Linked DNA regions of Homo sapiens. The main gene of each other region encodes a partner of the protein of the gene in region 2 in a complex. Each region holds a gene or a part of one and is shown on either strand. Other genes may lie near its edges. A codon is read from its position in the direction of its gene.

Region 1 (7,684 bases), on a different chromosome or scaffold from region 2:
ATCCGTCCTGCCTCAGCATCCCAAAGTGCTAGGATTACAGGCGCGAGCTACTGCACCTGGCTGACCATTTTAAGTTTGAATGCTAACAGTGACCTTATAAATTCATATCACCTAGACTCAAGAGAGATGCATCCCTGCTATTAAATGCCTGTAATTATAAGATGGTAGCAACTAGCTTTGTTCTGCACGTCTTTTTAAAACCAAATTTTTTTTACTTTCAAAAAAATTACTTTTTAATTTACCTAGCTTCTTTCCCAAGTAGTTTTGTGCCTGGATATTATCAAGAAGGCTTTTTGTTCTTACCTCTTTTATATGATTGCTAATACTACCAATCTCTTCATTATATAATTTTCCACTTATAACTAACCTTTCTCATAGCCTTTACTAATGAAGTTTTTTTTTTTGCTATAAATCATACTTCAGTAAATTTAAGGATACAAAAGAAGAGAGCCATCAAGCAGTCACAATACCAGCATTAACCTAAGTCTATAGAAGAAAGGAAAGAGAAATGAAAAGGCAAAAATAATGTCACCCTGGCTCAGACTTTTAATCCCTATATGTAATTTCTCAGTGTATACTATTGTGTTTTTCCTACTGCCCCTTTCCTATTTATCCATATACAGTAGTATTCTCTTTTAGTTCCTGTATTTGAATGTCCAAAATCCTATAAGTTGAGAGTTGTAAGTGACCCTAAAGATCATATAGAGCTTCTTAACCTTTTTTATGACATTAACCCCTTCTCAAGATAAGAGAAGTTTTAATATTTAAATAAATAAAATGTGTAGGATTACAAAGAAAACAAATTATATTGAAATATAGCTCAGGTAAAGAACCCCCGAACCCTTCATTATACAGATGAAGAAACTGAAACCCAGAAAAGCTGCGATTTGTCCCTTTGAGCACTCTAATCTGATAGTCTTCTCTGTCTACATGGACCATAATGTCATCTTTAACTGGTTTTTTTTTAGGCCCTTGTCCTGATTGGATAAACAAGATAATATTTCTTATGATTTAGAATGCAATGTGTAAATTTCAGACTTTGCTACTTATTTGCAAACTTCATTTAGATAAAAATTAAACTGGGTGATTGTTTTACCTCTGTTTAGCTCTGTCTCTCTTTTTCCTTCTTACAAGTGCCTTGAATACAAAGTCTTGTTAGACCAAAAATAAAATCTCTGTGGCGCACACCTGTAGTCCCATCTACTCTGGAGGCTGAGGTGGGAGGATCACTTAAGCCCAAGAGTTGGAGGCTGCAGTGAGCTATGATCGTTCCACTGCACTCCAGTCTGGGCAACAGAGTGAGACTTCAACTCAACAAAACAAAATGAAAACAACAAAAACAAAGCAAAAGTTAACTCCCTAATCTTCAGTCTCTCTAGTGGTGCCACAATGATTTTATTATAATTCAAATTTGTGCAGTCCACTTTAGGGTTAAAATCCTTCATCATTTTCCCTAAAGCTGGGGAAAAAAAGACCTGGTTCTAGAGCACTCCAGGCCCTTCATGTGGGACCCTGGCTGCTTGTCCAGTCTCTCATCTTGTACCTTCCCACATTGCACACTCTGCTTCAGCCAACTGACCTATTTGGAGAATTCAAATCCATATTACTGTCCATCACCTCTGTATCTTTACACACACTCTATCCTCTGGTGAGCCGTCTGTCTACCTACCTTTCTTCACCTGCTCAATTCCTTCAGTTCTCAGTTAAAGCAATAACTGTTTTTAGCGAACCCTTCTTTCACCTTTCTCCTGAGCAAATTTAATCACCCCACTCTACACCCTTACAGTACTTATAATGTACAGTTGTTCTTATGCTATTTTACAGTGAATCTACATGTCTCTAGATTGAGAGTTTGTTGAAGGTAGGGATGGTGTTTTTTTTTCATCTGTATCCCTAATACTAAGTACAATGCCTCTGAGCATGGTAGAGGCTACATAAAAGCTAAATAAAGAAAAAGGTAGGATTTTATGTCCCAATAAGGTAGCAAAGGGAATTTTCCCTCCAAATCTTTACATTCCACTTCTATCATCTACAGTGTCCAAGTCAAAGACATACTAATATTTTTAGGTGGTTTACATATCATTCTTTTTCATTCTGTCTGAGCCTAGCTGTAATGAAATATATCAGTTGACATCCTCTATTTTGTTTCCCACATTAGCTCTACACATATTCATTAGAATTTGCTTAAAGAATTTGATTTTTAACCATTTCTAGTTATTTATATGAAGTAAAGGAATTCAACTTTTGATCGGACCGTTGGATTATAAGCTATATGAGTCAGTTTTTTTTTTTTCAAACATTGTACTTTAGTCCTTAAGTGTATATTCCAGTTGAGTACTAAATTATAGCTGCTTGTAACTTGGCTTTTACTAAAAATGTGTTTTATAGCTTCTCTAAAGATCAGATTGGGTTTTACACCTCCAACCCGATTACCTTTAGTTTCTGCTGGTTCCTATTGAATTTCCAGGATTCACTGTGAATTAGTGTTAGGATGAGGGGCTGAAAAATTGCCTGATGGCTATGGCAATGAATTGTACTCTCTTAGTCACTGAGAATTCCGTATAAGTCAAAAGATCTATCTCACTCCTTTTTTGTTCCTAGTTTTCATTTTGTAACAGCTAGCCTGTTTTATAGAATTTAAGCATTTATGGTCATTTTTAATCTGTGATTATATGAGATGGTTTAGAGCAGTGGTTCTTAAACTTTAGTTCATAGACCAGCAGCTTGTGAGCTTGTTGGAAATGCAAGCTCACAGACTCCTATCCCAACTTACTGAATCATGATCTCTGAAGATGGAGCGCAGCTGTGGTTTCACAAGCTGCCCAGGTGTTTCTTTTGAGTGTTAAAGTTCAAGACCCACTGGTTTAGAAGTTTGGATTGCAAATTTTTACTGTAAAAGACCAAATTATTTTGACTTTCCAGACCATACAGTCTCCGTCACAGCTATTCAACTTTGAAATTGTAGCACAGAAGCAGTCAGACAATATGCCAACAAATGAGTGTGGCTGTGTCTCAATAAAACTTTATTTACAAAAACAGGCAGTGGGCTATATTTGGCCCAGGGGCTACAGTTTGCTGAACCTTGGTTTAAAGTACTTGAAAATGTTTTAAGGATAGTATAGAATGAAATAAGTGGACATTATTGTGCATTCTTATGTTAATACATTAACTGAGTTATTTGTTACTTACTTTCCACATAAATTTTTTAAAGTAAAATTTATCACAAACCAAAAGGATCTGACTGGGACATCTTGGTTCTTTAGTTTTGTTTCAGAGATTGCTTAAAATGAGGGACTTCAGTTTTTTCCTAATTTTATTATGTGAACCTGAAATCATTTGTATTACAAAGAGTTAATTTACAATTCTGCATAGTAACGGGGCTTTGTAATGAAAAGGATGTACAGTCTAACTCTCCCAAGTGGAAAAACAAATGGCTACTGGTTTTCCATTGTGTTCCTTTTGTTTCATATCTAGAGCATTGTGAGATTGAGGTCCCTTGAGAGACTGATTTCATCCAGAAAGAGCTGAGACTGATCTAGGGAAAATGGAAACAGGAATGTTGTATTTTTCTTTTTCAATTGCCTTCATTGAGGTCTAGGCAAAAGCCAGGTCACGTATTGTGTTTGGAGCAGCAAGTGGTCATTCCCTTTTTAAACAGTCTAAAGGGAAGTGGGCCAAAAGAAAAAAAACAACTTTCCTTTCCACCTGTTAATATGTGCTGTTAGAATGTCTCTATTCAGTTAAAAATAAATGGAGAAAAACTGGATAAACAGACTTTTAAGGAAAATATCTATTTCTGTTGTATAGTGGCTTTTAAGCATTTTTATTTTCCTGCTTTTAGAAGAGTCCAGTCCCTTCCTGCTTTCACCTTTCTTCCATATTCTCTACCCTTGTATGTCCATACACAAATAAAGAAAATGTTTAGTGAGATTAACCTGTTTGTTTTTCAGGAAAGACTATCTGAAAATAACTGTAGCTATTCTGAAAGTAAGACATTAATCATATAAAATGAAATAAATAGTGAGAAGTGTTCCAAGCCAGTTGCGTGTATAATGACTACTGTTGTGTTTTAAAGGTAGAAACCTTCCTTCGTGATGTTGCATTGCAGTAGCAGGGAAAGTCCCTTGACTCCTTCTTTTGAAACTGCAGAATAAGGGCAGGCCTGTATGTGAAGAGAAAGGATATTTCTCCTGGGAGGCTCTGCTGATAAGCACAAGGTTCCTAGTCCATTCCTTAGTATTCCATGGGAAGACTGTTGTGATTATTTCCTTTCCCCAAGAATGTGGCATGTAAATAATGAAGCTTTATTACTCTAGGTTATATATTTGTCATGTGTTCATTCATATTTATTGAATATGTACCTGAATATGTAGCTCTCCCAGAATTACAGTTTTTCAAGTTCTAAGGTTTACATTAAAAAAGTAATTTATTCTAGACACATTCCTTTGTAGTATCAATCAGTTAATATGTACATTTGTCTAATTTCCAAAGGTACTCTCTTCTGGAGAAATGATTTAAATTTTCTAATGGTCCCTCACAAGAAATAGTTTAAAAATAACAAGTTTTCCATTATGGAAATAATGTAAATTCCTGCTTTTTGTTCTCTTGTATTCCAGGCTCCACTTTACATTTTTTAAAGAAGCTGACTTGCCTGAGATTGATCACATTCGTGAAAATAGGTAGCAAAATTTGCACCACTTTCCTATACAGTAGTCCATTGACATTCTCAAAGAATTTACTCAAGACTTTTGTAACCACTTAAACAGTATTTGCCCAGTGAAGTCTAACTGAAAACATTTAAGGGCCCCTTTAGACTTTAGTGAGCCTGTTGTTTTGCTAAGGTTCATCACTTTTTTTTTTTTTTTTTTTTTTTTTTTGAGACAGAGTCTCGTTCTGTCACCCAGGCTGGAGTGCAGTGGCGCCATCTCGCTCACTGCAAGCTCCCTCTCCTGGGTTCACGCCATTCTCCTGCCTCAGCCTCCCGAGTAGCTGGGACTACAGGCGCCCGTCACCAAGCCCGGCTAATTTTTTTGTATTTTTTTAGTAGAGACGGGGTTTAACCATGTTAGCCAGGATGGTCTCAATCTCCTGACCTCAAGATCCACCCACCTCGGCCTCCCAAAGTGCTGGGATTACAGGCGTGAGCCACCGCGCCTGGCCCCAGGTTCATCACTTTTTTTAATGACATTTTAAATTTCCTTCACTCAGTTTTAATCACCATCACTGTAAATCGACTTTGTTTTTGGTGCCAATTTAGAGCAAGAAATATAGCTTTTCTCACTGCATGGGAGTTACTGTGTATGTCACCATGAGTAGAAAGCACAAATCCTGAGCTTAGGATCAGAGGCTTTGGAGTCACTTGGTCTTGTTCACTGGTGATGTGGCTTGCTTCCATGTACCAGTGGGATTCTGATTCATGCTTCAGAAAAGTGACAAACGTTTATGTATCCCATATTTTCAGTACTCAGGGAAGCAAGGCACTGCCAAGATACTGCCACAGGACCACTCTGCTTAGGTTATGCTTTATATATTTTTAAGAAACCAAATAGTTCCTTCTTTTGACCCCTCTCAATTAAAATTCTAGCCCAGACTTTCCCTTCAGGATCTTACAGTGCCACCAACCCCAGGCCCATATTATGGTTCCTTTCATTATCATATTATTATAGCATCAGGAGCTAGCTGGTCCTTTCCCTGTATATTTCACTGAGACTAGCTGGTGTTTATTCATTCAACAAATATTTGAATGCCTAAATAAATAAATATTTGAAGCACTGTTCAGATACTTGACATACAGTAATGCACAAACAGACCTATATGCCCTCACAGAATTTATATTCTAGTGGAGGGAATGTAAAACAACCTATCTGTTTTTGTCATTGTACTTTCAGTTCTACTTTTTGACAAAGGCTTATTTTCTTAGATTACTTTTTTGCCCTTGTTTACTCATTTCCAAAAAATACTTTTAGACTTATTTTAATATTATTTTGCCCTGGTCATTCTTTCATTGATTTTATATAGCTCTTAATTCTTTTAACTCTGAAGAAGGAGCCTCCTTTCCTTGTGTTCTAAGGTGTGTTTTTTTTTTTTCATGTCCTTTCCATCTTAGGGTACCCAGACTGGTTAAGCAGAAAAGGAATTGATTATAAGAGTAGCAGGTAGCTCATAGAATCGCCAGGTGGGCTAGAATTCAAGCTCAGGCTGTAAGGAAACATGCTACAGCTAAGATGCTGGCACAGGTATGGTCTACTTGGGAACTTATAAGCAAGGGATTTCAGTGAGGACAACTCTTGGATGGAAATTATCCAGGATACTTCTTAACCTGACACTAGATAGTTGGTTGATCCTGCTGGAACATGATACCATATTGAGGGCTTAAGGTTGGTTACTGCTCTGCTTCTGGCAAATGAACTACTCAGCAGTAGCCAGATCACCCCAAGAAGGAAAAGTCTATGCTATTGGATCTGGGCACTCTTCTGCCACCATGGCCGTTTTGTTCCTGAGCCTGTTAAGCCTATACTGGTGCAACTAGAGAAAAGGCTGATTGACATCCACAGAGTAGATTATTTAGTCTACACATTTAAGAGCCTCCTCTGTCTTGGGGCCTTTGGGTTTGCATTCACATGCAAAAAAAATTTTTTTTGAGATTATAGGCCCATTTTGGAGAAGTCCAGTCACACACTGCTTTTCCGGACTCCTAATACCAGTTCTGTAGAACTCTTCCAAGCTCTTGTTGCTTGCAAGTCCCTATCTTGTTGTACCATTAGCTATAGCCCATGAATCAATATAACTTCTTACCTGAGACCATCTTTCTACTGATAACATAGACAGTGATTGAAGTTCTGCCTGCTAGGGCCACCTCTGAATGGAGTTATAATCCTATAGTAGCTCACTTACAATAGCTGGGGCCAGCTATTGTAAGCCAGGCTGTAATTGTTTCTTCATGAGTCATTTGGTGAGAGGGAACTCTGCTTGAAGACGTAGGTGTGTTTTAAGGAAAGAATTATAATATGGCAGAAGCAGGCATTCTGAGAATGCAAGCAATATGCTACTTTCCCGTATCTTTGAGATCTATCCAGCCACTTGAAGATGGAATGCAGTTGGTCCCTGACATCATGAGTAGGTGAGTTCAGTAACACTCAATTCATGAGAGGTAACTTGACCTGATGATCTCTAGATGTTCTCTCCTGTTTAGTTTCTATGAGGAACTAGTAGCAAAAGCCAAGGTCCCTTTTAATTATGTAGGGTTAATCTCCTCATCTGCACTTGTATCTTACTATGGCATCTAGGGTACATGTCTATGGCCTCATCAGCTTTATGTCTTTGATAAGTTAGATTAGTGTGATGTCCTGTGAAGTCGGTGATATGTTTCACTGACTGAAATTGAGGCACAGAGCTGAAGAGCTGATGATGTTCCCCTAAAGCTGAAGCTCTTAAGCTTTGATGTGCATCAGAATCATCTGAAGGACTTGTTAAAACACAGATCACTGGCTCCATCCCTGAGTTCCTGAATCAATAGGTCTGGGATGGGATGGAAAAATTCCACATCTAACAAGTTCCTAGGGGATGCTGATGCTGCTCACTCAGGGGCCACTTGTTGGGAACCACTGCTCTAAGGCAAGTTGGCAAAGATATGCTGCTGTCCCTACTGGGTGAGAACAAATTGCTTTTGTAGAAGAAAGAACTG
Region 2 (7,684 bases):
GCCAGAATCAGATTTCAGATTTGTACACAAGGCCTGAAGCTCGCTCACCTCCCTGTCATCTGTGTTTCTGAGATTCTCCGGACCTGCAGCACTTTTACTTAAATGGCCCTGAGGGGATTCCTGGCAACATCTGTCCCCCCTCCCCACCCCAGACACCCCCCACCACTAATGAGCGTGGCCCCTCTGAACTTCCCCAGCTCTTCACCCAATGTAGAAGAGCAGTGGTGCAGTGACCTGTGAAAGGGGCTTCACGTAGGAAGGGGGCGAGATGGGATCCTTCAGCAGGTGAAGGCCCAGAAGTACACAGACATTTATTCAGAAAGAATAAATTTGTAAGTATAATTCTTTGAGAAAGGAAAGACCAAATGATTTGTGGAAGGCCTGTCGACAGGCCCGCACTTGACCCCACCGTCCGTCCCCGCCCCCCACCCCTGCTGCTCCACTGACTGCCCTGCCCTGCTCGTCTGCTCGTCTGCTCTTGCTAATTAACCTCCCTTCGCCTTTCCTCTGCCTTAACTGTCGTGTTCTAGTCTGGAGAGATTATATGTTTTAATTTCTACTCCAGTCTATGAATTGGTGAATCAGCCAAGTGAATGCTTCAAAAACTGGGACTCTCAAAAGATTAAAAAATATATATATACAAACCGTGAAAAAGATAAACTCTGTCCCCTCCATCTCCCATTGGTTTCTGCCTCGGTGACTCCCCCCCTCTTGGCCTCAGTTTCCCTGTCAGAGAGGCAGGACCGTAGCACCTTTTTTCCGCATGACAACGCCCTCACCTCCCAGGGCCTAACAGGTACAGCAGGTGTGCTGTGTGTGCTGGTTCCATTTTTGGGCTATAGACCTGATGAGATACATACTCCACACAAGAGGCCTTTTCTTGCCCTCTAAAAACATAAACTCGAGAACCTTCCCTGGCTGTGCTTCTAATGAAGGCTAGTTTCTGAAAAACATACAGCATTTGGATCAGTGTAATGTGGTACAAAAATTAACATTCTGTTATGGTCCCCAGAAGCCAAAGGGTGTGTCCTTTACCTGTGGGACCAGTGACCCTGAATATAGATCATTCCATAAAGACCACGCAGGCCATCCCATGTGGCTGAGTTAAACTCAAGGAAAAGCTACAAAACCTTCAACCTCTACTTACCAGAGGGATCTGACCTCCCCTCCCCCTTAGATTATAAGGCCTTCTAGGGGGTGGAATCTTATTTGATTCCTATTGCACATGGACCAACATGCACTAACATCATGAACTAGAAGTTTCATTGCTGCTAGCTGCAGTGCCTGGAGCATCGCACATACGACTTTTTTTTTTTTTTTTTTTTTTTTTTTTGACAGAGTCTCACTCTCGCCCTGGCTGGAGTGCAGTGGTGCCATCTCAGCTTACTGCAACCTCCGCCTCCCGGGTTCAAGCAATTCTCCTGCCTCAGCCTCCCTAGTAGCTGGGATTACAGGTGCATGCCACCATGCCCAGCTAGTTTTTTTGTGTGTTTTTAGTAGAGACGGGGTTTCACCATGTTGGCCAGACTGGTCTCCAACTCCTGACCTCAGGCAGTCTGCCCGCCTCAGCCTCCCAAAGTGCTGGGATTACAGGTGTGAGCCACCGCACCCGGGCTCCTGTAATGAACTATTATAAACACCACCACCTGTGCTCACTGGTTCTCTCAGTATGCTAGCAACTGAGTTAATTCCAAGTCAAACCATGGGACTGTTTTGTTCCACCCCAACCTCATAGTGACCTATCACTCCAGCCTCACCCCTACCCAGATGTTGATAGGACCAGGAGAAGCCTTTAGGAAGTGTTAGTATGTAGTGTGGGGGCTTCAAACCCATGAAAGATTAAATGAGCTGCATGCAACTTCTGGTACAGTCATGATTGCTAAGGCAATTTGCTAATCTGCCCCGATTGGGCGTGTCCTCAGGGCACATTTGGGAGGTTATAATTTGCAACTATGTTTATTCAGCTACCTCCAATCTTTGCACAGATCCGAACCCACAACTCCCTGAAGAACAGAATACTATGCTTTTTAGTCGGGATGTCTTTATGAAAGCAGTACTCCTAACTGACATGGTGCAATATGATTTTCTTTTCTTTTCAATCCCACTGCAGTGAGAAGGCAACCAAAGTGCAGGACATCAAAAACAACCTGAAAGAGGCGATTGAAGTACGTGCTGGCTCCTTGTGCTGTCTGTCTTGTAGCGCCCTCCCAGCCAGTGCTGTTCCCTGACCGCTTTGCTAAATCATTTTCAGACCATTGTGGCCGCCATGAGCAACCTGGTGCCCCCCGTGGAGCTGGCCAACCCCGAGAACCAGTTCAGAGTGGACTACATCCTGAGTGTGATGAACGTGCCTGACTTTGACTTCCCTCCCGTAAGCTACACCCCGACTTGTGTGGCCTTAGCCCCGCCCACCTGAGCACAGTGTCCATATAGGAACATGAGTGACAGCCCTGCACATGGGCAGGAGCATCCAAACCACACTTCAGGCAAAACTACATTTCAGTGATGTCCATCCTTAGGAAAAAGTTAATTTCATGTGTAACCTTAATTTAATAATAATAATCATTAGGGCTTTGTTCAAGATGGATGAGCAAAATTCTGTCACCCCTTCTACATCTTAGCTCACCTGTCCTCACAAATAAACATCACTCTTGAATACTACAATCTCACTTTATTAGATTGTAAATTTTTATGAGGAAAAAGGTCCTGAGCTATGGCAGGCTTAATTATTCCCTCATTCACATCTTAGGACAAAACTGTATGTTAAATATGGCACACAAATACTAATTGTCCATTTACTCCACTGGAAGTGCCCTAAGGTACCTTGGGATGCCTCAGTGAAGTGCCAAATGGAAGACATTCTCATTTTAAACAGGTGACCTTTTTATTAAGAGTTTTCTAAAGTCCTTGGGGCAAATGAAATCTTTTCTCATTATTAAAAAAAATGAAATATATCTAAATCATAACTCAAAAATCATAAAATAGAACATATGGAAAAGACTTTCCTCTGGATGCACGACACTGTTGGCTCCCTAAAGAACTACTTTTAGGGAACAAAAAACTGTTCAAGCCCAAGCATATAAGTTTAGGCCCCTTCGTGGGGAGAATGGCTTATAAGCGGGGAACGGGAAACGAGATGGAAAGATGTATGCGTTTGTAAGACCCACAGGGAAGAGACTTGTCTACAGCTAAAACAATGAGTTATTGTTGCCTTTTGTCAGGCTTTCGTGGGAATTTGTGTTTGTATATTTTAGATGGACTTGGCTGCAAACTTAAATTGGAGAAATTTAGTGGTATATAGTTAGTATGGATAGCTAAACTTTTTAAATAGCATTATTTTGAAAAAAAAGCAATAAACACAATATGTATAATATAACCCACTGACTTTCTTGAAATATGATTCTATATTTAATAGGAAAAGGAAACAGCAGCCTATTAAAAATGTATCAGAACAATAACTTTTTATTAGTCCTACTAACATCTGAACTTTTATGTTCCTACCTACAAGTCCCCCATCATCATTTTTTTTGGTAAGATTCACATTTTCCCAGGAGGAAAATTTAGTCCCAGCACATCTTACAAATGAAGTTTCTTATTTTCACAACATTGAACCATTTATTGGCATATTCTAACACATTTAGTGTATATTCTTCCTAAACAATTCTGTGAAGAAACTAAATTACTCAGTAGCTTACCCCATTCCCCCTACACACGAGAAAAGAAACTACCCAAAACCAGTAATTCACAATAAGACCCAGCAGCTAATTGCGTGAACTTTTGAATATGTTTAACGTGTTGAATTAAAGTTCTTTGTGAGCATTAATTCATTAATTGGGCTCAAAATTCAAAATCACACCAAGTGTCGGTCACATAGGGAACTCTGGTCTCAGGGTTTGAATGACAGTGTTGTTGATTAGTTCAAGCTCTTGCCTTTCTCTAAACTTTCTTGTGTTCACTTTCAGGAATTCTATGAGCATGCCAAGGCTCTGTGGGAGGATGAAGGAGTGCGTGCCTGCTACGAACGCTCCAACGAGTACCAGCTGATTGACTGTGCCCAGTAGTAAGTAACCGCCACCCAACCCATCAGCACATAAAACAGACAAAAACAAGAAAACATGAAAACCTGTGATCCTGCTTTGAAAGTTACTTGTTGATGATTCCTTTCTTAGAAGCCAACCAGTTACCCCACTGGCAGAAAGTTCTAATCTGATTCAATTGTTTATTTATAAAGTCCTTAATTGCATTTTTTTTCTTTTAGTGCAGCGACATTATTTTACATAAACATTTAAAGCCTGTTAGAGCAAAATGATGATGAGTTTCATAGTATTCCTAATTAGTAGGAAGTAATTAATTGAATTGACCCTAAGCATTTAGGGAAATAGGGCTGTGCTCACATTTTGAATAATGTAAAAATACTATATTTTATTGCTGTAATTTTAAAACATAACAAAGAGGAATGGTGAAGACATAGCTACGCCTCCTCTCTCCTTGGTAGTTGTTGATTGATCTATTTCTGCTCTCAGGTAAGCGACTCTAGTAGCTGCCTAGTGTTACTAGATCCTAGTGACTCTAGGTAGAGTTTGTTTTTGTGTTGTCTTGACTTTTGAACTCTATTTCATATCCTTATTTATTCCTTCTCACCGGGTCTTGATTCAAGGATGGTAAGTGGTCAATGGATTTTAAATCCTAAACTGTACACCTAAGCAGTACAATACCGTGGTGGGGTTATTTTCAAATAAAACAAATTACTACCTGCGAGGAGGACAGGTTAAGGCCTGCAGTAGCAATGGGAAAAGCATCTTTCTCCAAAGTCACTCATAAAGGTGGGCTCACCTGGTTGGTGTGTTGGCAAATGAAGAAGGGGGAACTTAAAACACAGACTTTATTGCACAACTCTACCTGATGCCCAGGCTGCTTCCCTTGCTGCCTAACACCTGACTTACCATTGCCTCAGGGATCGCCCTCTGTCCCTGTCACCCACCATGGTCTCTCCCAGAGGACATCGTACCCGATAGCTAGAAAGTTGCCTTTGAAATAGTTTATGGCTTCCCTCATCTTGCACATGATATAGCAAGCATGTGGTGGTCAGGGTTATTTAAAAAATATGTAAACATTATTATTATTTTTTTGAAACGGAGTCTCACTCTGTCACCCAGGCTGGAGTGCAGTGGTGCGACCTTGGCTCACTGCAACCTCTGCCTCCTGGGTTCAAGTGATTCTCCTGCCTCAGCCTCCCGAGTAGCTGGGACTACAGGTGCCTGCCGCCACAACCAGCTAATTTTTGTATTTTTAGTAGAGATGGGGTTTCACCATATTGGCCAGGCTGGTCTCGAACTCCTGACCTTGTGATCCACCTGCCTCGGCCTCCCAAAGTGCTGGGATTACAGGCATGAGCCACCGTGCCCAGCCAAAAATGTAAAGATATCTTCTGTTTGTTGATGCTGCAGAAATGCACAAAGCAGTCTCAGTTAATGATATTCTGAAGTAGGAGTGTCCTGTGACTTGGGGCAGGGGAGTCTAGTAGAGGTTTGATGTTTTAGCCATCCTTATTACAAGTAGCTGAAACTCGGAACTGATTTTGCTATAGGAAGTATTAGCTAATCAGAACCAAGGTGCCAGGCTGACTCACCAAGGGCTAAGATTGCTTTACTTAGTAGCCTCAAGCCCAAGGAACTGATTGTGAAAACCACCTGAATAAACAGGAGGGAGGAAGAGGTAATACTGTTCATCTATAAATCATATAAGCCTCTGTTAGGGTCTGCGCAATCTATCAACCCCAGCCCTGCCTTCCCATAGGAAATTCCTTTATTTTCAATTGCCACATACATAGATATTCCACGGTTTAATATACAAGCAAATGTGTATATTTTTTCAAGGAACAGAAAAAAACAGTCCATCTTGGCTGGTCCCTATGGCCCCCAGCCCCCACTCCTTCTTCAACAAAGTCCCTGATTTTCTCAAAAGTTCGAACCAAAAGCTGGAAGCGCTAATTATAGTAACGCAAAACAAATGGAAATCCTGGAATTGTTTGCATTTTGTATTTTGGATCCAAGTCAGAAGTTAAGTACAGGTACAAGATTAAGAGAGTTTAACCACCCCAGTTTTGAATGCTGGGGGGGCAGGGAGACCCAGTTTCGTTAATTAACAGTAGCTTAGCCAGATTGTTGAATTTTGTCGGGTTTCGTTTTCTCTCTCAAATCATTTAGAAGTTTTTGGGGTTTTTTTAAGCAACACTTAATTACTCCTGAAACTTTGTCTGAAAACGCACCATTTGTATAGATCATGAAAAGTTTTAAGGAAACTCAGAGAAAAAGAGAACAACGCAGCTTAAAACTTTTAAAATGTCCTCCCTCACCCGTGGCTCAAACAGCCCTGCATCTGCCGTGGCCGGCACGTTTCTGGTTGAACTGCCTTTATGTTAAAGTTCAGATACTGGTAGTGTGCCCATTTCTTAAGCTGTCTATTTTTATTTGTTGAGCTGGGGTTTGGCTGGCTCCACTCCAGATGTCTCTCTCACAAGATTTGGTGCTGATGATCTATTTATAGAACTGTGGTTCTGTTGCCATGGTAACATGCTGGAGGCCAGGGCGGCTGGGGAGCTATTTCTGGACTGGTGCTGTAATGTAAGATTGATTGGGCAAGTTAGTATATCCTCTAAGCCAGACTAACTCTGAACTAGTAAAAAGGAAGAGGGGAACAGAAAACTTAGGCAGTTTCTTTAAATAAACTTTTCTCTCTTTATGATTTTCTTTTCTCGTTAGCCCGCTTTAAAACAATTCCAATCTCTACATGCCCCTCCCTCCAAAAAATAACTGGTTTTAACATTAATTTTCCATATTAATTACCCCAATCTTTCAAAAGTAAATTTTCCTGTGTGTCTAGTCAAGCAACACAAACAAGATGCTTTTTTTAATGAAAAGCGTAATATCTGGAGTGTTCTATTTCATGGACCAAACAGAACGGAAGAGAACTTTGTGTTTGTTTCCTGTTCAGGATGGCTAGGGCGAGAAGGGCCCCTTTGTGCCAACCTCTTTTGTTCTCTTTAATCAATGAGATTCTTAAAAAGTAAAAAGGAAGGGATACAGATTCTCAGTAACTAAAACAATCTCGTGTGCCCTTGAGGGGAAAGTCCTTGATGTTTTTAAGAATGTCACTTTATTGTTTTTTAACTGAATGATATAGAGGTATACAATTTTCAAACTGTTTGCCATTTTAATCAAGCAATTTGAAAATTAAAATGTTTTTGTCAGGCATTACCAAATGGCACAGAATGTGATAGGCCAGCCTGGTTTTGGGGTCCTTTCTCTACTGGTTGATATGCATAAAACCTTCTAAAAATCAAGAATATTGCCAGAGAGCAACAGGAATAAAGAAGCTAAGTAAAGAATAAAAAAGAAAAATAGAAAAAATAAAAATAAACACGAAGAACAAAGCCCCACCACCGTGCTGTGCTGTTTGTGTGGCCCCACTGCGTCGAGGCCACAGGCTAGCTGCTAGACGCATCTAGAGTTCCCTGATTCCTAAAATTATTTATCTTAAATCCTGTTTGCCCTAACCTTCTTAAGGCATCAGCTTTGAGTTACAAATGTAACCAACACACAAGCAAATGTGCCATTGACTTAGTGCTGCATAACTGTGGGACGGTCACTTCCGTTGAGCCTGACCTTGTAGAGAGACACAAATA
Region 3 (7,684 bases), on a different chromosome or scaffold from region 2:
CTTTTGTATGGCATTTAGTAGCTTACAAGGTGAGAATACATTATCTCGTTTGATCTTCACAAGAATTGTTTATAGGAAACAGAGCTCTATTATCTCTCATTTTAATAACGAGGAGAGGCTGTGACCCTTGCCCAGGGTCATATGGCCAGTAACTGGCAATCTTGTAATTAAAATTCAGATCTTTTGATTCTAACACCAGTGTTCTTTTATGATTCACATAAAAAACCCGAGATTGGAGAATTATAGAGGGCTTTCAAAAAGATCCACATTATCCATGTGCTCTGAGTCCAGAAAACTAACTGTAATATAAATGTCACATTGTGGCTCACTTGAGCAGAATGAAACAAAGATATGCCATTTCAATGTTGTTTCAAGGATAAGAAGTCTTGGAGAAAATTGCTGGGATACTTCGAGAAACCCTAAATGTGATCAGGCAGGCCCCTAGAAGATAAGTATGTCTGCCCTGTCAGGGACCTGTAACTCATAAGGTCTCAATGCCTGGCCTGACCTTCCCATGTGTTTCACCTGCACATATTCTATTTCTCCAGCTGTAAAATCCTGGGTGTAGGTGTATTGTTTTGGTCTTCCGCAAAGGGGAATCCTTATCTCAAGATTTTCAAGTGCAAGTACCTTATTCGGGAGAAGAAACACCAGTAGGAAAAGGGAGCAGTGATATAGGGAAGATGCAGTGGCCAATAAAGAGTACATTACCCAGGCAGCTACCCGTGGAGATTAATCCCACAAGGAAAGCTCGGACGTGATGTAAAACACAAACCACAGAGACACACTCCCCTGAGGGGTGAGAGATGGGTGTTCAGATGCCAGCTCCCCTTAGGCATTGTTCTTTTTTTTTGGCAGTGCAAAGTGAAAGCAAGTTTATGAAGAAGGTAAAGGTATAAAAGAATGGCTACTCCATAGACAGAGCAGCCCCTCAATCATTGTTGAGAGCTGCTGGGAGTGGGAGGTAATTCCCCACCTTCCTGCAACCTGTGCAGGAGAGAAGAGCGGCATTCTGTAGCTTAGGAAAAAGTTCCTAGGCAAAGAAAGGCAGATCCCGGCAGGGTAATGTCTCTGGTAAAAGGCCCGAGGGATATGGCTCTGCTATAACAGGATCTAGATCTTACACTTCAAAAATTATCTTTCAATGCTCAGAATAGTATTTGGGATACTATAGTCCCCTGACAACTGTGGACATATCAACCTGATATGAGGGTATATGTGAGAAATGCTTGCAGATACACATTAAATCTGTACCAACAAAAGAATATGGAAAGAAAGAAAGAGCAAGAAGGGGCCAGGAAGGCAGCCTGCACCATCGTTTCTTTGGCATGGGGAGTCATCTCTACTCACACTTTCTCATAAATCTTGTTCGGATGCTCTGGCCATTCGATCATGCACACGACTCTGCTGGGCATGGTCTCTGTGGTTGAGTAGTAGCCCTGGGGGAAGGCCAGCAGGAGAGCCAGGACCCAGATGACACAGATGACCACTTTGGTGGCTGTGGCTGACAGCCGGGGCTGGAGGGGATGTATGATGGCCATGTACCTGGAACAGAGAAGAAAGAACAAAGTTCTGATCTGGTCACCAAAATCTGTATCAGAGATTCCATATTTTTCCTGCCAATAAGAAAATTCATAGAAACCCTTTGATTCCTGATGATTTGTACAATTATTTTCCAATTCCTTTTCCATATTCTACCCTTAAGCTTTGTGATATGCCATACAATGCCAACATGCGTAAGAAAAGCCAGCTAGATTTTTCAGTATTTCAGAACCTATCTAGCAGCATTCAAGGAGAGACATTTTCATCATTGAAATGCTTGTGCTGGGGACAGGACAGCCAAGTACAGGTAAGTGAAATTAGAAAAATAAGAACAATGTTGTAAATTTATTCAATGTAAAGACTGACTTTCATTCTTTCTAGATTAAGGGATAATGGTGATCAGAATAGTACTTTTTTTCAGTCCTTATGTGATATTATAAAAGATTAGCAGTCCTACCTCGGTCCATACAATTTGAGGGGAAGTAAACATGTCTCTGTGACAAAGCATTGGCCTAAAGTCAGCAAAAAACAACAGCTCCTGGAGAAATCTTCATCAATTCTTTGAGCATCTAGGAGTCAGTGTATGGCTAACTATACATACTTCGTGAAGAGAAAGACGGTCTCCACCTGCTGAGGCAGACAGACTAGAGTGCACAAAGGACCAGTATGGATGACACTTCATTGCAGGAAGAGGGGAGCACAGCAAATGATGACTTCATGTCTGGAGCCATTCCTCCATCGCTTCATTCCTGGGCTCTGGCACTAAACAGTGTCATCTGAATGAATGTGTCCACATGTTTGAGTTTGTGCACAGCCCCTGAGATGTTGCAGAGATTTGAAGGATAAGTATTTCATATCAGCCTTTCATATCAGTGATAAGCACATCAATTCTGCCTCTTTCATTTTAAAAGACATCTCTCTCTGCATATTTTTCTTGCAAAGTTTATAGCTCTATACCTTAAAATAAGCATTTTTTAAAAGAGAAGGAATGATATCTTATAGGGCCTTTGGCATTTAAATATTATCTGACAAAACCTCAGAATCACACATTGATTCTCTGACAGTCAGGTGTCTCTGACGTCCATGCGACAGAATGGTCAACGGAGACTTCAAAAATCTGCAAAGAGTAGCAGAGCTGTCAGCTGGCTCCACATCGTTCCACATAATTCTTTTACTGTATTCTTTGGACTCCTAGGATCTCTAGACCAGAATTAGGACCAGGGTTACAAGTAAAGCAATTTTATTCAGTATGCGCTCAATAAATTCCCACTGGACACCTGCCGCACATAGAGCACAGCGTTTCCTTCTGGGCTATAAGCTTGTAATTTCTCCAGGGAGAAAAGGTGCATCAATAAGCAGCTCAAAACACAGCAGTAGGATAAGTGACCTCAAGTGGTAATTGGATCAATACCTTAGAGTCTTAGGGGAGCTGCGGAGACACTCAAGCCCTGGAATGGCAGGTGGTCTACTGGAGGGGCTTCGACAGGTGTGCTGGATTTGGGGTGAGTCTGCTGAGCATCCTGCCCCAACGGGAGGAAGTGTTTGGAGCTTTCTTGTTTCTCCATGTTAGGATTAGGCTTTGTTTGCATGAAGGCTTCCTTGAGCATCCTCTTATCACTGTAAACTTTAGAAACTTTTCTCTGCATTTTTGTGCTAGGGACCTGGGATTTCCCTCTCTGGTCTGTAAGGGCCACTGAAGGTGTTTAGTGTATAGAGTATGTCTACTAGGAGGACACTTCATGCCAACCTTTATATCAGAAGTCATGACAACTCCCAGGAAGGAAACTCCTAGAAACTCTTTCTTCTGCCTCTTTTAGAAAGTGGGTAGGTGGTCTTAAAGTGAGGAGAGAGTGGAATTATAGGAACAGACTTGGAAAAGATATGATGTTGGGGGTGTGTAGTAATCTATAAATCTCTGGGCAAGTTTCCCTGGTTCTGTTGATACTATAAAGCCTATCACTCAAATGCTGTCTGCAGGTCATCAAAAGGGCAAAAACAACTCTCAATATGTTACAAATCAAACATTGTCTGTTTTCTTTAGGTTACCCCAAAATGGCCACGACTACTGCCAAGGCAGGTCCAGGACACCATAGACTAGATGACCTTCCATCTCTGGGGTAGTCCCTTGAAAAGGACCCTGAGAAGTGTTGATTTCTCCCCTAGACCTGTGTCTTCCTTGATGCCTGACAGTGGTGGAGCCCTGTATCCTCTTCAATCATGGGGTGCGGTGGGTGGGGGAAACTCAGAATCAGAGCCAACACATGTGGGCCTGTTCAACCATTATCGTTGCCGTCTTTCCAATTCAGTGAAGGGCTGGACCCAGATGGTCATGGCCAGAACCTCTTTGAGTGTTTGTATTAAAACCATAGGATTGCTTGTTGGATTATTTCCCAAATGCAGCGGTGAAGATGCCTTATCTCACCTCCAGCACTGCATAGTTCCTACCCTCACTGGCAGCTGTGCATTCTCAGGCTTCACAGGAACTTGAGGAGGATGCTCAGGGGAGAATGTGGTAATTACATTGCCCTCTTTTAATATTACCTCAAATGCAAGATTTTAATTTGTTTCTCATTCAGGATAAATGCTCAGTCTTAAATAAACAAATCCTAACACCACTCCCCATGCTCGAATTGGCGATACACCATTCAGAATCTAATGTGACTGGGCTTACGGGGGATTGCACCAGCGTATTGGCACTGTAACTCCAAATGGGTGGCAGAAAGCCATATTTTATCCTTATTGCAAAAATTGCAATTTGGGAACGCACTTCAGTTAACTCTCTACCGTTCTTTAGTGTAGGAGCCATTTTAGTGGCAGATGAAAGTATTACCCACATAAAGCCAGAGAGAATAAAAAAGACTGGCTTTAAAAAATGTATATATGTTCATTTGTTCAAAACAGAGGTGTTTATAAATCTCCCTCCCTCCTTCCTTCCCTCCTTTCCTCTCTTTCCTCCTTTCTTCTATCCCTCTCTTGCAATCCTCATTTCTGGGGCTCGTTTAACATGTTTTTTTCTTATTCACCCAAAAGCTAGTACCATTTGGATAACCTGTACACAGATGGATGAATATTTTCTTTCCTACTCCCCACTTCTAGCTAGGATTCATTAACATACATTTATATATTTATCTGGAACCAGCCTGAGCAATTCTTGCTTATTTGGTTATAAGATATTACGGAGCAAGTGCTGCAAACCCAAGGAAAATACATTCAATAAATATTTATTGACTGCACCGTGCTCGTGGGACTCTAAGGCAGTCAATGAAACGTCTTTCTGGTGTAAGCATTAATCATTAGGCTGCCAGCGACAGGGATCTGGAGGCGTGTGGGATATGGATTATGTTCTTTACTTCAGGTGGTTCCAGTCCCACTGAGGGCCATCAGGACTGATTTGAATTGTATGTGTCCTCCCAGCTGAAAAACCTGAGATGTAGCCTTCCTCTTGCATGATGATGCTTTATAAAAAGAACTCTCTGCTGCACATTTGTTTTTTCTTGTAGGCAGAGTGAAAACAATCTTATTGTGAAAAGGAATTTCAATCCTCTGACAAGCGGCAGTATCTTCATAACTTCCTGCTATACCAGTCCCAAATCACTCAGCAGAGAGAACGTCTTTCCTCTACGATGAGATTTGTCCAGTGGGGCCCTTCTTCCACAGTCTTTCTCATCCAATTCCAGTTTCTGCCCTCACTTCTCCCACTCACTCCTGGGGTGTTACAAGTTTCCTTTAAGGGACCACATCTTCCTGAGTTCAGATAACCAGGGTGGTAATAGCTGAGAGTGTGGCTGCTATAGTCTAGCTCAAGGGTTGGCAATTTTTTTCTGGGAAAGACAGATATTACATATTTTGAGTTTTGTGGTCCATATAGTTTCAGTTGTAATTATCAAACTCTATCTTTGTAGTGTGAAAACAGCCACAGACAGCAAAGAAACTATTGGGCATGGCTGTATGATAATAACATTTTATTTACAAAAACAGGAGGTAGGCTGCATTTGGTCCCTGGCCCATAGCTTGCTGTCCCCTGGTCTAGTTTACAGGAAGCGAAGAGCAGGAGGAATTAGAACCATAGGAGAAGATGGTGTGATATTCAGAAACACTCTTTACCTTTGGCAGATGGGAACTCATTGGGTAGATAACTCCTGTGTCCCACAAGCAGTGAGTAAGGTGGTCTACGGCCAGTCATGACCAAGAATCAGATAAGACCCTGGTTCTAATGTGAGCACAGTGGTCAATCTGGGATGTTTTTCCTCCTCGATCCCTTCCTGGCTGTTCCTGTTTATTTTCACAACTTGGCCCAGTCATCATGTCCTTGTGGCTGTGTTTGTTGCCTGCCTTTACTGCTGTGAAGATCTCTAAACCTTGTGCTGACCACGCTTCACTTTATTTTCTATTTTCTTTTCTTTTCTTTTTTTTCTATTCTTTCTTTTTTTTGTTTTGAGATGGAGTCTCGCTCTGTTGCCCAGACTGGAGTGCAGTGGTATGATCTCGGCTCACTGCAGCCTCTGCCTCCCGGGTTCCAGCAATTCTCATGCCTCAGTGTCCCAAGTAGCTGGGATTACAGGTGCCTGCCACCATGCCTAGCTAATTTTTTTGCATTTTTAGTAGAGAAGGGGTTTCACCATGTTTGCTAGGCTGGTCTTGAACTCCTAACTTAAGTGATTCACTGTCCTCGGCCTCCCAAAGTGCTGGGATTACAGGCATGAGCCACCGCGCCGGGCCTTTATTTTTCTAATTGCATATCCTTCTTTTCTCTTTTCACCCTCCACAGGTCCTTGGCCTGCCCAGGTGCTGAGGATGTAGTAAATACTCATTGAAAGTTTGGTTGCATAAATGATATCTTGGCACATAGCAGTGGCTTCATGAATGCTTGTTGAGTGAAAATAAGTGTAAAAGGAGAAAAACATACATGTTATACCTTTATTCCTCCCAGTCTCAACACATGTAAGACTGTTATGTGAGAATAATTATTGCTCAAAGTGTTTTCTGTCATATAGACACCCAGGATCATCCTGAAGGAGTGACCTCACTGGAATTGGCTCTTCAGAATTTTTTATCTCTTGACATTAAGCCCCTAAATAGAGCCTCAATACCTACTTGTTGACTAACTTTTGTGTTGACTATACGTTGGGAACTGTGCAGGATTCAGTCTTTCTTAGTTTTTTATAGCTTTGATTTTAGGTTCAGGGGTACATGTGCCAGGTTTGTTCTATAGATAAACTCATGTTACAGGGGTTTGTTGCACAGATTATTTCATGACCCATATTAAGCTAGTACCCAATAGTTATTTTTTCTGCTTCTCTTCCTCCTCTCACTCTCCACCCTGAAGTAGACCCCAGTGTCTGTTTCCTTCTTTGTGTTCATCAGTTCTCATCATTTAGTTCCCACTTATAAGTGGGAACATGTGGTATTTGATTTTCTGTTCCTGTGTTAGTTTGCTAAGGATAATAGCCTCCAACTCCATTCATGTTCCCGTAAAATACACGATTTCATTCTTTTTTATGGAAGAATTATATATATAGTATTCCATGGTGTATATGTACCACATTTAAAAATCCCATCTGTCATTGATGGGCATTTAGGCTGATTCCATGTCTTTGCTATTGTGAATAGTAGTACTGCAGTGAACATATGCATGCATGTATCCTTATAATAAAATGATTTATATTCCTCTGGGTATATACCCAGTAATGGGATTGCTGGGTCAAATGGTAGTTCTGATTTTAGCTCTTCAAGGAATAAAGACTTGAATGTGAAACCCAAAGCTATAAAAGCCCTGGAAGGCAACCTAGGCGACACCCTCCTGGACAAAGGAAGGGACAAAGATTTCATTACAAGGACACCAAAAGCAATTGCAACAAAAGCAAAAATTGACAAATGGGATCTAATTAAACTTAAGAGCTTCTGCACAGCAAAAGAAACTATCAACAGAGCATACAGACAGCCTACAGAATGGGAGGAAATATTTGTAAACTATCCATCTGACAACGGTCTAATATCCAGCATCTGTAAGGGACTTAAACTAATTTACAAGAGAAAAACAAACAACCCCATTAAAAAGTGGGCAAAGGACATGAACAGACACTTTTCAAAGAAGACATACCTGTGGCCGCAAGCATATGAAAAAAATCTCAATATCACTGAT
Region 4 (8,483 bases), on a different chromosome or scaffold from region 2:
GCCAGGGAAGGGTGAGGGAGAGGACCATCCTGTTCTTTCCATCAACAGCTCCAGGACCTGTCATGGTCCCTGGCAAATGGCAGCCCTTAGTGAGTATGACGCTGGTGAAATGAACCAGATCAAGGCTCAAGTCTCCTGCTAGTGCCCTGTGTAACTGTGGACAACTTCACCTCTCTGAACCTCAGTTATCCCACCTGCAAAGATCATAACTTCAAACTCCATGTAATTGTCTCGAAGAATAAAATGAAATAGTACGGAAGGAGCTTCAAAGCACTTTGAACATGTAGGGTCTATTTGAGGATGCAGGGTGGGAGGAAGGGGAGGAGCAGAAAAGACAACTATTGAGTCCTGGGCTTAACACCAGAGTGATAAAATAATTTGTACAACAAACCCTGTGATAGGAGTTTACACATGTCACAAACCTTCACATATACCCCCGAACCTTTTTTTTTGAAAAAGAGAGAGAGAGAGAGAGAGACTCCAGCCTAGGTGACCCAGTAAGACTCTCTCTTTCTCAAAAAAAAAAAAAAAAAAAAAAGGTGGGGGGAGCCAGAGACCTTAACAGACACCTCACCAAAGAGATATCCTCATGGTACATATGCATCTGAAAGGATGCTCCACATTACATGTTATCAGGGAAATACAGATTAAAACACAAAAAGAGAGAGAGAGAGAGAAAAGAAAATGGGGGGCATGGCAGGTTGGAAGACTGCCTCTGTGTTCATTTTCAAATACACTAATTAATAGAAACAACTTTCTCATTAACATTCTCATAATCAGTAAAGTTGGTGCTCTAAGTTGTAATAGTATACATTCCTTCATAAACTCAATAAAGTTATTTTCACTCTTTATGAAAAAAATACATATGCCTTTAAATGTTATGATTTATTTCTCATGCAAAATAATGTTCATTAAGTGAATTAAACCCCAAATCTCAACTTTCCTGCAGTGTTCTGCATCCTGTGGACATGTGATGATAATAATGGTGCTTTGCTCCTTATCTAAATTTGTGGGGAACATTAATTGATGCTGAGCTTCCAGGATAGAAGCCCTTTGGAGTGGGGACTGCCCACCTGGCATGAGGGAGGTAGGAACATCCCCGATGTGTCTGGACATGCTGAAGAAGTAGGTACCATAGAGCACTGATGCCTGAGGATGAGGGGCACCCCTGGGGACAAGCAGAAACAGAAAGAAAGGAGATATTTTTAATAGAATTCATCTTCCTCAGCATGTGTCCCCAAAAGATTACACTCCATCCAACACCATGGATCTGGACAAACAATGTAGTGTATTCAGTGGCCCTTTGTGATTTCTGTCTCTTGTAGCAACAATCTTTCTTAATAAACAGCTTCATACATCTCACCAAGCACTTGCTGTCTTCCTGAGATGTCAGCACAAGCACCTGGATACCACCAGATAGACTTACACTTCCCAGTTGAACACTATACTGCTTATCCCCAAGAATCAAGAACAGGGAGCGTGTGTGTGTGTGTGTGTGTGTGTGTGTGTTTGTGTGTGTGTGTATGCGCATGCAGATGCCCAGAGAGAGAGAAAGAAAGAGACAGAGAGACCAGAATTTCTTGCCAGTGTGGGTCTTTTCAACGTAGTTTTGTAAGGTTCTGGACAGCTTGGCTGGCTGCAGTCCTGATATTATGAAACAGAATTGATTTGCAAGGATTTGAGCCAGGAGAGGGCACACCTGGGAGGCAGCTGTGAGATCAGCCAGAGCAAGGGTGCAAATGCTGAGGTATCTTGAAACCTACAGCAGAATAAAGGGTTGGGACAACCTGAACCAGAGCCAGAGTTTAGTGCTCCCTAATGGGGCTATTGAATTCATCAGGGCCAAGAGAGAACCATGTGCCAGCCTTTATCTTGAGAGAGGAAGGAGGTTCTGTGTGTATATGGAAAATTAAAGGTCTGCAGAGGAGATGTAGTGAATGTGTTAAACCTGAAATTACACAATGATTTAGAGCTGGATTCTCACTGAAATTTCTTTATTGCAACTATTCCAAAAAGATATCCACTATTTCAGGAGTTTCACTACACACTAAACTGACAAAGGGATTGTTTAGATGAGTGTTCTCAACCCTGAGTTTTCTTTCGGGTCTTTAGAAAATACCCACTCCAGACAAAATGAATCAGAATTTCTGGGTGAGGGATCCAAAGATGGGTAGTTTTAAAAACCCTTCCATGTAATTCTAATATGCAGCCAGGATTGAGAACTGCTGGCTTAGGCTGAGATGGGAATGAGATATCAAAGGAAGCTAGAGAAAGAAAGATTGTGGTTGAAAGGCTCTGATTCCTGGGCTTAGCCTCAGACAAGAAAAGTGTCCTCATGTTTATGCTTAAATAGTGCTAGAACAGAAAGAAGCAAGGCACCTCAGCCTGTGATAAGTTGGTCAAAGGGTTGGCAATAATGAATTTAATCTGTGACTACCAATCAGAAGCCAAACTCTGAAGACCCCAAAACATAAACAAAACCAGACAAGCTGGTGGATGAATAATACATTTGGTTGTATGTTTCAGTCAATGATCAAGGATTCACAGAATAGAAACCATTCAAGGTAGCGCAAGATTAGGAAGGTTTGTGGTAGAGACCCAAAATGTAATTTCAAGGCATCAAGGGATTTGGGCTCCCAGAGCCAGGAACCAGACACTCAGGGACTGAGGTCACTCCTTTCACCTCTTGGTCATTTGATCTTCTTCATCTCTGTTCCTCTTCACACATCTGCTTCATTCTTCCAGAGCAGTTGGCTTTCTCTGATTAAACACTTCACACAAGGTCCAACACACAAGTGGTTCAGCTCTAATTTATCACTGTCTTTCATGTCCAGAGCCCAACACTGACTCACCGTTGTTAACGTGTTTCTTAGTTCAAATTTTCAACAGAAAAGGATCTGGTCACTAGCCCAGCAAAGGATGGCTGATCGTATCTAGCTTCAGTTGAGGTGTCAATCTCCTCCCATATACTAGGGTATGTGTGGAAAATTTCATGTAGTTTACAGGCTGAACACTTTAGGAGACCATTGGAAGGGCAGGTGCTTATATAGTAGCTATAGGCAAGGCAAGTAAAGAAGTCCATCTAATTTCCATCCATAACTGATGAAACAGACATATTTTGCTTTCCCATCTTCTACCTTCCAAAATATGGGTGGATATAGGGGAGATAAGGAGGAGTTTGAAAGAACATGCTCTGTCTGCCCAGGACCTAGTCTAGCATCCAAAAGAGGTAACCACAGATTGGCATCACTCAAAGTCAGTCTACATATCCTCAACCATCATTTATGTACATGATTCTACATGTGTTGTCTTCCTCTGGAAATCACTGAGAAATCCATTCTTGGTAATGTTGAAGCCTAAGGATATTCAGAGATCCTGTGGTAGGTTCAATTTTAACCTCATACTTTCTGCTACATTGTGGCATGTGAAAATGGAACATACTTAGATATTAAGGAGGATTCTCCTCCCCTTGGGCTTTTATCTGATCATTTGGAAAATCCTCAGTTAACATGCTGTTACAGTGGTTTGACGGCTCACTTGACAGCTCTGAAATAACATTCTTGACTCTTAGATGACAATCTTGTACCGAAACACAAAACGGCTCTTTTCAGAAATTTAGAACTTCAGCCAAGTTTTGGGTTCAAGAAAATAGTGGTGTGTGGATTTTTTTAAGCTCTCCAAATGGATAAATTGTGTGTAAACTCACTTTCTGTCCAACATCAGCTATTGCACCAAATAATTGAACTGTCATATGTCCCTTGTTCTTGTAATTAAGTTGGCTGCATTGAGGCAGGAATAGTCTGGACTTGGGGGTCATGTTTAAAGGCAGCAACCTAGGGTAAACTTATCCTCCAACCCATGGACAGTCTGAATATCTTTTTTCCCCTCTTTGGAGCTAGAGGCAAAGTGAAGGGAGGAAAGGGTCCACAGGGAGAAGTAGGGGGAGCACTAGCAACAAATGTTGCCAATTTTCACTTTTCCCAGACCATGTGGTCCCTGAAAAGTATGGCTGTGGCCTCTGTGCAATGCCATCATGCCAATGTGCAATCATCTATTTTAGAACCTCAGATGGCATCAACTATTTTAGCTCTTGCCCAGGTACAGCTACTGCACATTCTGGGAGAAGAAAGAGAATAAGAAGACTAATATTCGTATCTTACTGACAAAACAAAACACCTTTAAAACAAAAGGATGATTTATCTGGGCTGAAAATAAAACTCCTGCCTACTGAAGTCTGGTGCAGCTGAGTTATCACGATTTTCGTCCTGTAATTTGTTTTATAGGGTACTAATTAACAGGGCAAAGTCTGAAGCCAAGAAAGTAAATCACATTTTGCTGTTTTCCTTTTCTCTAGCAAGATGCAGACCTGGTCTTTAATTAAAGCGCAAGTTCCAAGGGCGATATCAGCTACCGAAATCGGGAAAACATGGGCCGAAAAGGTCACAGTGAAACCTGCTGTGTAGAGTTCAGAAAAGATAATGGGAAAGAGAGGAATTGCACAGGCAACCTCCAAAAGAAGAGATTGTTTTCCTCAGATGTCCCTGTCTTATCCATCTTTTAACTGCTCCCCATAACTCAGAATTTCTTCCCTGACTCTACTCAACTGAGCATGTACCACAAACATCCTTTTTAAAAATTGGATTTCAGGCCTGGTGAGGTGGCTCACACCTGTAATAACAGCACTTTGGGAGGCCGAGGCGGGTGGATCACACGAGGTCAGGAGTTCGAGACCAGCCTGACCAACATGGCGAAACCCCATCTCTACAAAAATTAGCTGGGCGTGGTGGCGTACATCTGTAATTCCAGCTACTGGGGAGGCTGAGGCAGGAGAATCGCTAGAACCCAGGAGACAGAGGTTGCAGTGGGCCGAGATCGGGCGACTACACTCCAGCCTGGGCGACAGAGTGAGACTCTGTCTCAATAAATAAATAAATAAAATTTTTAAAAAGTGAATTTCTTTTCCCAGATAATTCCTGTTTCGGGAACGGCATTTTTTTTTAAAGGTAGCTACTTTCCCATCAAACACCCCTGTCCCAACCTCCCCCTTCTCCGGGGTTTCTTTTTTGACCTGATCCCTCAGTGATCTTTGACGCTGGGCTTTGCTGCCCGGCAGGTGTCACTCATCCTTCACCCCTCCCCTCCCAGCTCACCCTCTTCGCCGCCTGGTCTCAGGGTCTTCTTCACTCCTTTCTACCTCTCCTTGTCTCTCTCCCATCCCATTCCTGGAAGTTCTGGACTGGAGGTGGTTGCTCTGGCTTCTCCTCCCTCCTAGGACCCTCAGATAGTGTTGGGGGCAGGGGGAGTGCGGCGGGGAGGGCACAGGATGGGCTGGCGAGGAGAGTGAGTGCTGGGCTCGCACCGGGAGCCGGGAGCCTGACGTCACCACGCCCTGCCTGTCAATCTGCAGCGCGCGCCGCTCGCAGCCGCCTTTTCTGCCACCAACTGTATCTCTCACTCGCGGAGCCGGCACAGCGACAGGCGCCCCGCGCTTGCCTCCTCCCCGGCCCGGCCGCCTCCTGCAGGCAGCTGCTCTGTTTGCGCGGGGAGCTCAGCCCGGCGCCCCGCCTCGGCGCCCATGACCAGCGACTTCCAGAAGTCCTGACGCCCCAGGTGAGTGGCCGAGTTCCCAGGGAACTTTGAGGATGTGGGGAGAGGAGGGGAGAAAGATATCCAGGGGACAGGTCTTTCCAGAAGAGGAGAAATGGAGCCAACCTTGACTCCCACCCTCTGCTGCCCCCATACACACACCCTAGTCTCTCCTCCCAGACCCCCTTCGCAGGGGTCTCTGGGCTCCAGGACTCTCCAGGCTTCGCAATGCCAGAAACTTCGCTTTCAGCACCGCGGACAGCGTCTCTGCTGCCCAGCCCCATGGGGATGTCCTGGTCGCGCCGCCACAACCCAGGCGGGACTCTCCCAGGATGACACTCCTAGCTTGGTGCACTCGGGTGCGTGTGCAAATACAGGCAGCCTTGGAGAATTGATCCTTGTGCATGTGAGTGCATGTTGTCCTGGTGTATATCTGCAAAAACTCAGAAGTCCGCGTGGGCATTTCACTCACTCACTCAACAGGTATTTATTTTGGGTTCGCACTTAACCCATGATTCCCCGATTTGCTCTGGGGTCCCAGGGTGGGGTGGGCAACTCAAGTGGGGCAATGCGAGAGGAGGCTCTACGCGTGGGGAAGTTTCCTGGCAGCCTGAAGTGTACACCTGACGCCTGCACTCCCTCCCTATGCAGGGTGCAAATCCGGCCGCGATGAACGCGAGCGCCGCCTCGCTCAACGACTCCCAGGTGGTGGTAGTGGCGGCCGAAGGAGCGGCGGCGGCGGCCACAGCAGCAGGGGGGCCGGACACGGGCGAATGGGGACCCCCTGCTGCGGCGGCTCTAGGAGCCGGCGGCGGAGCTAATGGGTCTCTGGAGCTGTCCTCGCAGCTGTCGGCTGGGCCACCGGGACTCCTGCTGCCAGCGGTGAATCCGTGGGACGTGCTCCTGTGCGTGTCGGGGACAGTGATCGCTGGAGAAAACGCGCTGGTGGTGGCGCTCATCGCGTCCACTCCGGCGCTGCGCACGCCCATGTTCGTGCTGGTAGGCAGCCTGGCCACCGCTGACCTGTTGGCGGGCTGTGGCCTCATCTTGCACTTTGTGTTCCAGTACTTGGTGCCCTCGGAGACTGTGAGTCTGCTCACGGTGGGCTTCCTCGTGGCCTCCTTCGCCGCCTCTGTCAGCAGCCTGCTGGCCATTACGGTGGACCGCTACCTGTCCCTGTATAACGCGCTCACCTATTACTCGCGCCGGACCCTGTTGGGCGTGCACCTCCTGCTTGCCGCCACTTGGACCGTGTCCCTAGGCCTGGGGCTGCTGCCCGTGCTGGGCTGGAACTGCCTGGCAGAGCGCGCCGCCTGCAGCGTGGTGCGCCCGCTGGCGCGCAGCCACGTGGCTCTGCTCTCCGCCGCCTTCTTCATGGTCTTCGGCATCATGCTGCACCTGTACGTGCGCATCTGCCAGGTGGTCTGGCGCCACGCGCACCAGATCGCGCTGCAGCAGCACTGCCTGGCGCCACCCCATCTCGCTGCCACCAGAAAGGGTGTGGGTACACTGGCTGTGGTGCTGGGCACTTTCGGCGCCAGCTGGCTGCCCTTCGCCATCTATTGCGTGGTGGGCAGCCATGAGGACCCGGCGGTCTACACTTACGCCACCCTGCTGCCCGCCACCTACAACTCCATGATCAATCCCATCATCTATGCCTTCCGCAACCAGGAGATCCAGCGCGCCCTGTGGCTCCTGCTCTGTGGCTGTTTCCAGTCCAAAGTGCCCTTTCGTTCCAGGTCTCCCAGCGAGGTCTGAAGGGCTCGCCCCGTGTCCTCTCACCAACACCACACCCCAACAAGCCAGCCTTTGGTAAGCTCGGTGCCTGCTGACGAACTCTGAGATCCCAATGGTGTGAGTCTGACTTTGGAAAGAAAAAGGGACTAAAGAGAAATGTAACAAACTTACAAGGACAAAGAGGCTTGTTGGCACTTTACATATACAGTGTATACATGTGTACATATATATACAAATATTTGTATCTTCTGGAGGTGTTCAGGATGTGGAGCTTCCTATTCTGTGAAAAACCAAGAAAAAGATATGGTTGTATACTCAAATTGTACATCACGTTTGTCAAACGAAGACATTCCAATACTGCTTAATTATAGCACTTTATTTTTAGCTGCTGAACTGCCAAAACAGTGTTGCCATTTTCAAGGGCAGGGAAAAGGGAGTAAAAGGTGTATTTTTGTCGTATGTGATAGAATATTTTGCTGCACATGCATCAACAAATTACAACATGTTTTGTACACGAATAAACCCATTACAAGAATGTAATTTGGGGTATGTCACTGACTATAGAATTACAATTAGCTGAATTGTAAGTGTATGAGTGTCTTTCTTTCCTTTCTTTCTTCCTTTCTTTCTTTCTTGCTTGCTTGCTTTCTCTTGCTTTCTTTCTTTCTCTTTCGTTTGTTCGAGATAGAGTCTCACTCTGTCGCCCAGGCCTGAATGCAGTGGCACAATCATAGCTCAGTGCAGCCTTGAACTCCTGGGCCCAAGAAATCCTGCTTTAGCATCCCTAGTAGCTGGGACTACAGGCATGCCACAGCACTCACCTTACTTTATTTATTTTTTTAAGTTTTTAAAATTTCAGTAGTTTTGAGGGTACAGGTGCCTTTTTTGGTTACATAGATGAGTTCTTTAGTAGTGAATTCTGAGATTTTAGTGCACCTGTCACCTGAGCAGTGTACACTGTACCTGATATGTAATCTTTTATCCCTCACCTCCCTCCCAACCTCTCCCCACTGCAAGTCCCCACAGTCCATTATATCACTCTATATGGTTTTGTGTCCTCATAGCTTAGCTCCCACTTATAAGGGAGATCATATTGTATTTGATTTTTCATTCTTGAGTTACTTCACTTAGAATAATGGCCTCCAGCTTCATCCAGGTTG

What was found.
Region 1: the proteins of GNAS (region 2) and FZD6 are in contact, whole or in part, in a cryo-EM structure (PDB 8JHB), measured with the Homo sapiens proteins. Residues at the interface, in NP_000507.1 of Homo sapiens: Gln384, Leu388, Gln390, Tyr391, Glu392, Leu393, Leu394; in NP_001158087.1 of Homo sapiens: Arg226, Ala310, Lys314, Ser316, Cys317, Val396, Gln407, Lys409, Leu410, Phe413.
Region 3: the proteins of GNAS (region 2) and TACR1 are in contact, whole or in part, in a cryo-EM structure (PDB 7RMH), measured with the Homo sapiens proteins. Residues at the interface, in NP_000507.1 of Homo sapiens: Arg38, His41, Val217, Phe219, Tyr358, Phe376, Cys379, Arg380, Ile383, Gln384, Arg385, His387, Leu388, Gln390, Tyr391, Glu392, Leu393, Leu394; in NP_001049.1 of Homo sapiens: Met63, Thr67, Asn68, Asp129, Arg130, Ala133 (codon at 1,538), Ile134 (codon at 1,535), Ile135 (codon at 1,532), Pro137 (codon at 1,526), Leu138 (codon at 1,523), Gln139 (codon at 1,520), Pro140 (codon at 1,517), Arg141 (codon at 1,514), Leu223, Gln239, Ala242, Lys243, Val246, Met249, Leu308, Asn309, Phe312.
Region 4: the proteins of GNAS (region 2) and GPR6 are in contact, whole or in part, in a cryo-EM structure (PDB 8TYW), measured with the Homo sapiens proteins. Residues at the interface, in NP_000507.1 of Homo sapiens: Gln35, Arg38, His41, Val217, Phe219, Asp323, Asp343, Leu346, Ser349, Thr350, Arg356, Tyr358, Cys359, Phe376, Arg380, Asp381, Ile383, Gln384, Arg385, His387, Leu388, Gln390, Tyr391, Glu392, Leu393, Leu394; in NP_005275.1 of Homo sapiens: Met107 (codon at 6,574), Asp165 (codon at 6,748), Arg166 (codon at 6,751), Ser169 (codon at 6,760), Leu170 (codon at 6,763), Ala173 (codon at 6,772), Leu174 (codon at 6,775), Thr175 (codon at 6,778), Tyr176 (codon at 6,781), Tyr177 (codon at 6,784), Leu182 (codon at 6,799), Ile248 (codon at 6,997), Val252 (codon at 7,009), Arg254 (codon at 7,015), His255 (codon at 7,018), Ala256 (codon at 7,021), Gln258 (codon at 7,027), Ile259 (codon at 7,030), Leu261 (codon at 7,036), Gln262 (codon at 7,039), Gln263 (codon at 7,042), His264 (codon at 7,045), Lys276 (codon at 7,081), Gly277 (codon at 7,084), Thr280 (codon at 7,093), Leu281 (codon at 7,096), Arg332 (codon at 7,249), Asn333 (codon at 7,252), Gln334 (codon at 7,255), Glu335 (codon at 7,258).

What each region holds. Positions count from the first base shown.
Region 1 is NC_000008.11:103,301,645-103,309,328, forward strand, and holds part of FZD6 (frizzled-6 isoform a precursor), read left to right. Parts: intron 1-7,333; exon of another isoform or gene 7,334-7,437; intron 7,438-7,684. UniProt on the Homo sapiens protein: Receptor for Wnt proteins.
Region 2 is NC_000020.11:58,901,421-58,909,104, forward strand, and holds part of GNAS (protein GNAS), read left to right. Parts: intron 1-2,107; coding exon of another isoform or gene 2,108-2,110; coding exon 2,111-2,165; intron 2,166-2,251; coding exon 2,252-2,371; intron 2,372-3,962; coding exon 3,963-4,060; intron 4,061-7,684. UniProt on the Homo sapiens protein: Guanine nucleotide-binding proteins (G proteins) function as transducers in numerous signaling pathways controlled by G protein-coupled receptors (GPCRs).
Region 3 is NC_000002.12:75,119,224-75,126,907, forward strand, and holds part of TACR1 (substance-P receptor), read right to left. Parts: intron 1,546-7,684; coding exon 1,351-1,545; intron 1-1,350. UniProt on the Homo sapiens protein: This is a receptor for the tachykinin neuropeptide substance P. It is probably associated with G proteins that activate a phosphatidylinositol-calcium second messenger system.
Region 4 is NC_000006.12:109,972,858-109,981,340, forward strand, and holds GPR6 (G-protein coupled receptor 6), read left to right. Parts: upstream 1-5,453; 5' UTR 5,454-5,610; intron 5,611-5,836; exon of another isoform or gene 5,837-5,918; coding exon of another isoform or gene 5,919-5,945; intron 5,946-6,237; coding exon of another isoform or gene 6,238-6,255; coding exon 6,256-7,344; 3' UTR 7,345-7,863; downstream 7,864-8,483. UniProt on the Homo sapiens protein: Orphan receptor with constitutive G(s) signaling activity that activate cyclic AMP. Promotes neurite outgrowth and blocks myelin inhibition in neurons.